Linked DNA regions of Homo sapiens: region 1 is linked to region 2. The links come from fine-mapping of genetic effects on gene expression. A gene starts in region 2. The other region holds a variant in brackets. All regions are shown on one strand. Distances are between the middles of the regions. Region 1 overlaps EHD3 (EH domain containing 3). Region 2 holds the start of EHD3 (EH domain containing 3).

Evidence for each region.
Region 1: its variant is fine-mapped to the expression of EHD3 in whole blood (TOPMed, PIP above 0.99).

The regions. Positions count from the first base shown.
Region 1 is chr2:31,255,108-31,259,492 of GRCh38, forward strand. All of the region lies in intron 3 of EHD3 (EH domain containing 3), which reads left to right. It overlaps LOC124905983 (a long non-coding RNA gene), which reads right to left. Exons shown (of 4, transcript XR_007086270.1): 2 at 2,549-2,740. Among named protein-coding and RNA genes, the nearest start is that of EHD3, 23 kb to the left of the region's middle. RefSeq lists enhancers at 1,100-1,927, 2,013-2,062. The variant G/T (reference allele first, on the strand shown) is at 2,075.
Region 2 is chr2:31,231,565-31,235,949 of GRCh38, forward strand. It overlaps EHD3 (EH domain containing 3), which reads left to right and starts at 2,588. Exons shown (of 6, transcript NM_014600.3): 1 at 2,588-3,284. The coding sequence starts at 3,058. It also overlaps a transcript of CAPN14 not described here.

The DNA of each region.
Region 1 (4,385 bases), 24 kb after region 2:
GATCCCTGCAGGCTGCCCAGTCTCCAGGCCCGGAGCTGGCTGACTAGACCTCTTAGAGCCAGCAGACTTGTGCTATGAAGTCCAGGAAGGGCAGCTTCTCTGCTCTGTCTCTTGGGGCTTGAATCTCCCCCGACTCACTAGTCCATATTTCATGAACACTTGGGCTGCCGCAGGTGCCCAAGAGCTACCGTTGTGGGTCTCAGAGCCATCGCTGGGACCAGAGAGGGGAAGGGGGCCTGTCACTGGCCATAGCACTCACCGCAGCTGCTGAGGCAGTCTGTGCTGTCAGATCTTGTTGCCACAGCTCTACCACAGAGTCCTCATTCAGCTCTACCACAGACCCCTCATTCAGTCATTTGTTATCCCTATTTTGCAGCTGAGAAAATTGAGGTTCAGATTTGCCAAATAAATGAGAAAGCTAATCCTATACCATACCCTTTTTCTTACTGGGTCCAGTCCATACCTTTGAGATACCGCCATTCCTAGATCTGCACCTAAGTCCAGGCCAAGTGAACAACTAAATATCCACCCTACAGATGACACAGCCTCGGGGTTAGCCAGGAGCAGGGAAGTCGAGCTTCAGAGCAACCCATGGAGTCATTGCTTGATGGTCATGGTCTTCACAGCCACACCTGGCTGGAAGCTTCTGGCATTACTGAGTCTGTAATTGGATAGCAGCTTTCCAGAGCAAATAGGAGGCCTCTGCTTATAAAATCACGGAAAGAGTTCCCAGAAGCCCTTGGCCTGTCCTCAGGCAGAGGCAGACTTCACACAGGCATCCCCGAGGCCTGTAAGACAGCAGCCTGCAGCCTCTCTCTCTTGCTGTGCCTGCAAAGGGTCCCTTGTAGCTAATCTCCATCCATCCTGTTGTACTCCCCACCCTCACACCTCTGGTCTCAGATGCAGAGAATTGTGAACCGAGAAAGGAAGCTCGGAGGTTGTCCAGCTCAATCCCCTGATTTGACAGGCAAAGAGACAGAGGACTAGAGAGGGGAGATTCTTGCCCAAGGACACACAGTAAGTTAGTGGCTAAGCGGAAACGAGAGGTGGACTCACCCAGGCCAGTGCTCCTCTGGTGACTCCTACAGAGCACATCCCATCTCATAGAAACTAGGGCTTAAAAGGAGTGCTTTACAAAAAACAGCAGGGCAATGAGAACAGCCAAGGTCACAGCTCAGCAGTTTCACCTGCATCCTCTGATTTGTTTAGATCCTCACAATAACCCTACGACTGAGTCACTGATTCCTCAACCATAAAACTGAGGCCCAGAGATTACTCATTTACTGTCTCCCAGATGCCAAACGTGGAACAGGTTTCCACGTTTTCCACGTTTCACTTCCGTTCAGCAAATACTGATAGTGCACCTGCTGTGTGCCACACACCGTGCTGGGTGCAGGGGAAGCCCAGAAGGGTGAGGTGCTGCCCCTGCCCTGTCCAGCTCCCAGTGCACCGAGGATGATTTCAGTGAGCTGAAGAGCAGAACAGGAGCGTGCATGATGCTACAAGACCACTGAGGGCAGGGACAGGGATAGGCAGGGGTCTATCCTGTTCTGGCAGCATGGACATATTGCTGCCCCTCAGCCTTTGCAGACACAGCCTTCTCTTACATCGCTGGTGTCATCAGGGATTGCAGCAAGTTGCAGGGACAGAGCCTCTTCCCTTCTCTGCAGCTTCTCTGGTGTCTTTGTTTTCCCCAGCCTGGTGGAGGCGTGGCTACAGTGCAAGAGTTGAGTTTGGAGTTCAGGTCTTGGCTCTGACCCCCAGCATTGCATGGCCTTGGGCCTTTCTCTCACCCTCTATAAACCTCCATTACCTTGTCAGCATAGGACTCAACACTGGCTGCCCTGGCTGCCTTAGCCTGTTCTGAGCCATTGAGCCAATATATTGGGGCTGAGATTTGCTGGACAGGTGAGAGGGAGCTGCAGCCCAGTCTTGGTCCTCCCAGCAGCCCCTCCTGTGGCCTGCACTGGCACAGCTAAAATCCAGATTGGGGAATAAGGAGCAGCAGAAGGCCAGAGGCCTGGCAGGGAGTTGTGGAGGGTCCCTACTGCCCTCCTGCTGTGAGCTGTTTGCA[G/T]AGGTGGGGGTTGGGGATTTTCTTAGCCCTCTGGCCCCTCCCTACCCACAGCTCTGAGGGACTGCCTTTGGGAGGTGACAGCAGCCTTGCCATGCGCTGTGCTGAAGGGAAGATAAAAATAGGCTGGAGCCATCCCTGGGAAGGGAAGGATGGACAGAGGGATGTAGGAAGGAGGGGAGTAGTGCGGGCTGCAGGCTTCACCTGAAGTGGGAATGCTTAGGCTTCCCGGGCTCCAGTGAGGAGCTGGCTGTGCCTGCGTGCCAGGGAGGGAGGGAGGGAGGCAGGGAGCGGCCAGGTGCAGAACGGCTGGATGGCTGACAGCTGGGTCATCTGGCCTCACGACTTGCCAACTGTTTGACTCTCTCCTCTCTGAACCTCAGTTTCCTCCCCTGGAAGTGAGAACGATACTCCTCGCGCTGCCTGCCTCAGAGCGTGTCGTGAGGGTGACATGAGATAATGACATGAACATCTTACCGTCTGCAGCAAGCACTGAACTTCGAGTTGGAGGCTAGGGGTCGTGTCTCATGGGTGGTATTGGCTGAGTCACTTAACTCCTAGAGTTTGCGTGAACATCTCCGAGGGAGGGTTGATGATGCCCCTGCCCACTGGGCAGAGCAGCCTCTGAAGCACTTTCCTGGGCCTTGTCTCTGAGCCGAGACAGGACACCTGTGTTCAAAAGAGAAGGCAAAATCTAGTTCACACCAGGCCCTCGATGACGCACCCATCAGGAACTATCCTCAGGATGGCACCTGGAGATACTGGGCCAGCTCTGCCCCTTCCTGAGCCTCAGTTTCCCTATCTGTAAATCAGGAAGTTGGACCATTGATGGCTAAGCTCCTCGTAGCCTCATAGGTCTACGCCACAGGAGCAGGGGGAGAAGGCTCAGGTGTTAGTTGAGCTGTATATTCATTGAGCAGCTGACAGATCTTGGAGAAAATCACATGGCAATGGGAATGCTTGGAAGCACTTCATTTACCAAAGACAGAGGAGCTGAAAATGGAGTAGTACTGGCATCCGGGTAACCAAAGGAGGGTTTGACCTTCCTTTGTTTGTTAGAATTCTCTTACAGCCACCAGGGAAACATTACAGGGGTCCTCCAGGAAGCTTTAGGGCAGCAAGTTTTCCCGACCGTCTGATCCCATCCCCCTACCCCCTGTGGCAGTGCCTCCACACGTCCTAAATATGTACCCCACTGGGTGTTCACTAGATGCCACAGGGTGGGGGAAAGGCTTTTTAAACCTAGCTCCGTTGGCTCCATTCATCCTCATCCCCCACCCCATCGATGCCTGCTACTTAGTCTGAAATGACAGCCTTTGAAAGTGAAAGCCAACTCGGTGCAGTGGTTCATAGCACTGACTCCAGGGCTACCTTCCTGGACTTGAGTCCCAGCCCATTGCTTACCAGCTGGGTGACCTTAGACAAGTTCCTTTATCTGTTTGTATCTCTGGTTACTCCTCAGAGAAGTGGGGCTGATATTAGTGTCTAATGACCCTACACAGAGTCATCGTGAGGATTAAAGGAATGAATGATTATAAAGTACTTAGGTCAGTGCTGAACACCTTTTGAATGCTATTGTTATTTTTATGGGCCAGTGGTATTCAAAGTGTGGCCCTTGGACCAACAGCATCAGAATCTCCTGGGAGCTTGTTAGAAATGCTCTGCGCCAGACCTACTGAATCAGAAACTTTGGGGATAGAGTCCAACCATCTGGGTTTTAAGAAGCCCTGGGGGGATTCTGATGGAGGCTAAGTCAGGACCCCTGTTAAAGACAGTCAGAGCTTCTTAAGTCTGACTCACTCACAAGGCAGTTGCCTGATGATCTTGCCTGGTCTCTAGCCTCCCTCTGTGAGGCAGGGCAGGCTTTTTCCTAATGATTTGGTTTCCCATTCGATGGTGGCAATGAGCTTTGGGTCCCCAGTGTGTGTCACCTTGGAACCCTTGTGCTATGGGGAGCCAGGATGGTTGGTCACTTTAGTACCCAAGAAAGGGCTCCTACCTTGGTGCCAGAGGTATGCCACGGGGGAGTGGCAGGAGGAGAGGCTGAGAACCCTGCTCAGACTCAGAATGGGAAAGCCTAACACCTCCATCTTCATGCGACTGCTGCTGCTCATGGGCTGTGTGCCCTTCGACAAATCACTTGACTTCTCTGAGCCCCACTTCCTTATCTCTTGTCTTCCTATTTTATGTAAGAGGAGCCTGAGACACAGAGGTAAGACCTACTGGGGCTCTGGGTGTCAGTGAATGTATAGACTATTGGTCCACCCTCCTACTTCAGCTCCTACTGGATCCACAGCTACTTGGGATTGAGCAG
Region 2 (4,385 bases):
TTTTAAACAGATAGATTTCAACTACTCAAGACTGAGACGGGAGTAGATGTGTCAACACGCACTTGGTAAATTAGATATTCGGAACAGACATTCAGCAGTAGACAATGGCATGGCCGTACTGATTACAAAATTCTTGAAATACTTCCATAATGGGGCCCCTTGATTTCTTTCCTGTCACGCTGGCCATACTGACCTCTCTCCGGGGACAGGCTCAGATCTCTCCAAGGTCCAGACGCCACTGTATTAACACCAGGCGTGGCACGGGGCCGCAAGCCTTGCTCCACTAGGAAGGCCAGTGTCTGTTCCGGGTGTTTGATTCTCATGCCTTGTGAGTTGTTAAATATCTTTAATATTACTCCTTAGGTTCGTATGTTGGTAGTAGCTAAACACCAAGGGTGAAATATTAATCTGAGTGAATTCTCAACAAGAGATGATCAGTTTTGGGGTTCAAGGAGGGAGTCGGGAGATCTGAGATGTAACTAAGGAGATTCTATTCAGCACTGGCCTCTGATAATCCCCCCTCCCCTGAAATCCCTGCAGCTTCACCACACTCCTCTTGAAGCTCCTGCAGGCACTTCAAACGCAACACGTTTTAGATTGAACACATTATCTCTGTCTGCTAAATCAGCTCTCTCTCTGCCTCCCCTAATTAGTGGAAGAGCTTCTCCAATGATCTTATCCCCTATGGTAGAAAATTCAAAATCATCCTAGACTGTGCCTCACCCTTATGTCCTCTTTTTTTTATCACATACCAAGATCTGACAATTCTATTCCATGAAAAAAATCTTTTGAGTCTGACCTCTTCTCCAATCCCATTGCAGCTGTCTCCTAAGTTTTGGAATAGTTTCCTAAATGGTCTCTTGGCCTCTGTATTCGTCTGTTTTCACACTGCTGTGAAGAAATACCTAAGACTGGGTAATTTATAAAGGAAAAAGGTTTAATTAACTCACAGTTCTGCATGCCTAGAGAGGCCTCAGGAAACTTACAGTCATGGCATAAAGGGAAGCAAACACGTCCTTCATAAGGCGGCAGGAGAGAGAAGTATGAGGAACCAAGTGGGAAGAGCCCCTTATAAAACCATCAGCTCTCACGAGAACTCACTCACTATCATGAGAACAGCATGAATGAAACTGTCCCTATGATCCAATCTCCTCCCACCAGCTCTCTCCCTAAACGCATGGGGATTATGGGGATTACAATTAGAGATGAGATTTATGCGGGGACACAAAGCAAAACCATATCAACCCCCAACCTCTTTTGCCCCTCCAACACTGCTCTTGGCATTCCAGTTCCTGCCTGGTCCATAGCCTACTCCTTCTTCATCTGTGGAAGGGAGGGTAGTGGGAGTCATTAGCCTGGGCAGGGAGGAGTGTTTTATCACTACACTGTTTAGAATGGTGCCAATACAAAGCACATCAACTTTCAGCAAGTTTATTATTGGGTTTAAATTCTCTACACACGATGCACTGCTTTTGCCTACACCTGGACAGTGTTCCCACTCACTCTCCTTAGTATGATGCTGGAGATAATATGATCTGCCATGAAGGTTAAATAAAGCAATGTTCACTGAGAACTTAGCCCAGGCCCCTGCACATGCTGAGCATTTTGTTAATGTAACAATGATTAGTAATAGCATTGCTATTGGTTCCCCATCTCTGGCAAAGCCTTTCATGCTTGGCCTCCCTCACTCTCTTTCACCTTCCTAAACCCTACACTCCAGCTATGCCAAACTGTTTACTCTGCCTTGGACACACCAAGTTCCTCAAGCCTTTGCAAATACTCCTTACGCTCCTAGAACAATGGATGTCAATTCATCATTTAGGATCCAGCTTACAGTCATGCTTTCCATGAAGCCTTCCTCAAATTAGCCACACAAAAGGAGTGACTCCTCCCTGTATTCCCATGACCCTCTGCTCATGCCTCCTCTTTAAAGCCTGCCTTCACTGGAGTTCCTGGAAGGGAGAGTCTGTTCAGCACTCATCTCTGTATCCACAGTCACCAAAATTGTAACTGCCCCATAATAAATTCCCAATACTTGCAGGGATTTTGCTTCTTGGCTTGTTTTGTTTTGCTGGAATGAATGAATAAGTAAATGGGAACGATTTTGACTTCACCCTAAGCCTAGCTAAAAGTTTGGGTAGTGACAGTTTTGGTTATTTTGTGTAACCTGATAGTGGATCCCCTTTCTATGCCAAAAAAAAAAAAAATCCCCCAATACTAGAGTACCTGTTTTCCTAGGGAATTGACCTCAGCAACTGAAGGAGAGGCGATTCAAAGCAGGGAGTGTGATGAATAGGTCAACTCTGTCCTCGCAGCCGTCCCTGAGAGGGCGCTGTTCCCAAATCGAAGCCCCAGAGGCGGAGACTGAGACACCGGCACTCTCCCACTGGACTGGGTCAGCATCCCTCTCCCCGCGCGGCCGCAGGTCTAGAGCTGAGCGCCTGCCCACAAACATGGCGGCGCCCTGCGCGGCTTCCCGTCGCCGCAACCGTGGGGCCGGCCCTGCCTTGCCAGTACTAGGGGACTTCCTCTGCGCGCCGGCTTCCTGCCCAGCTGGCATTTAAACCACCGCCTGGGGCTGCAGGATGCTGCTGCGGATGCAGAGCTGTCCGCGGGCTGGGCAGCGTCGCCGTCTCCCCTGAGCCGCCTCGGTCCGGCAGGAGCGGAGCCGAAGCATCCCTTGCTGCACGCAGGGCAGAGCAGGCGAGGGCTGGGGGCCGATCGGGGACCCCGGCTTGGGACCCCGGCATCTGGCAGTTTCCTTGCAGGTTCAACTTTAATTGCCAAGATTTCACCCCTCCTCCTCAAGCCCAGATTATTTATCCTCCCTCCGGCCTGGGCTGCTGGATGCAGCAGCGGCTGGGCTTGGTCCCAGGAGCAGGGAGAGTGCGCTCCCGGCCCTCCTAGCCGCGTGCCCGGGCCATGGTGCGGCTGAGCCCCGCGCTTGGGTGAGGCGGCGGCGCGGCTCGGAGCCCGGCGGACCGGTCCTACGGGACATCTTCCCCTGAGGAGGAGTCTTCCCCTGGGGCTGCGTGCCGGGGGCGAGCGGCGGCCGCGATGTTCAGCTGGCTGGGTACGGACGACCGCCGGAGGAAGGACCCCGAGGTTTTCCAGACGGTGAGTGAGGGGCTCAAGAAACTCTACAAGAGCAAGCTGCTGCCCTTGGAAGAGCATTACCGCTTCCACGAGTTCCACTCGCCCGCCCTGGAGGATGCCGACTTCGACAACAAGCCCATGGTTCTGCTGGTGGGCCAGTACTCCACTGGGAAGACCACCTTCATCAGGTGAGCCGGCCCAGGGTCCTGGCAGCCCACCCCGGAGCCCAGCGCCTAGTCCCTCCGGTCACTCCTGGTGCTCCATCCCAGACAGGGGACCAATGGGAAGCCTTCAGTTGAGGGCTCTGAAGAGATCTGTGTTTGTGCAGGCGTCAAAATCTTACCCCACAATTTTTGCTGGTCCCCCTTCCCATCCTACCCAATACCTGTCCACTCTACTTGGCCCTTGGCTGTGGTGGTCAACCTGAAGTATTCAAGTGTAAAGCCATTCCCAGTCTCCCCATCTTATGGATGATGAAACCGAGGCCCAGGAGGCACAATGGAAGAGCTCCTGGTCTCTGGAGCGCCTTATGTTGGTGGGGATGTCTTACGTCTTCACTTTTTAGCAACACATCATTCACGGGCAAAACCTCTTCCCTTGTTTTTCAAGGGGCTTGGCACTCACATGGGGGCCTCACAGTTGCAGCTGAGTTCTGATGGGTGCGGGCCTGGGAACGGAGGTGGCCTGGGGATGCTACTTGTCCTCCTTTTATCATTTCCTTCTCTAAAGCAGAGCTCCTGTGTATATATCTTGGAGACTCAACAGAAGCTGAGTCCAGAAGCAGAATGCTTTTTTTTTCCCCTTTCTCTTATTTGATCTTAATGGCTTAATAATAATATTAAAGACGCTTAGAGATGGAAGGGATATTGGCATTGTCTCATCCAGTTGCTGAGTTTGCAGGTGAGATAACCGAGGCGCAGAGAAGTTAAATGAATTGTGCAGAGCCATCTAAAGAGTGGGCAGCAGACCTGGGATGTTAAGTCCTAGATGCATGTGAGGAGATGCTTGGCTAAACGCCTGTAACTCTGAGAATGAGTCATCCATTCCCTTCAATTACAGAATCCTTGGGCTGGAGGGAGGCTCAAGAAGTCAATTTGTTCACCCTGCATTCAGAGAAGTCCACCAGAGGCCCTTCTTATCTTTAGAGAACAGGCTTCACTCCAGTCCTCAATCTTCCCAACTTCAAGGCCAGCCATTTTCTTGGCCCCTTTTATAGCCATTCCAAATTGTTGAGAATGCTGTGGCCCTCTGTCTTAAGACTCAGGCTCCCACAGCTTGAGAATGGAGTT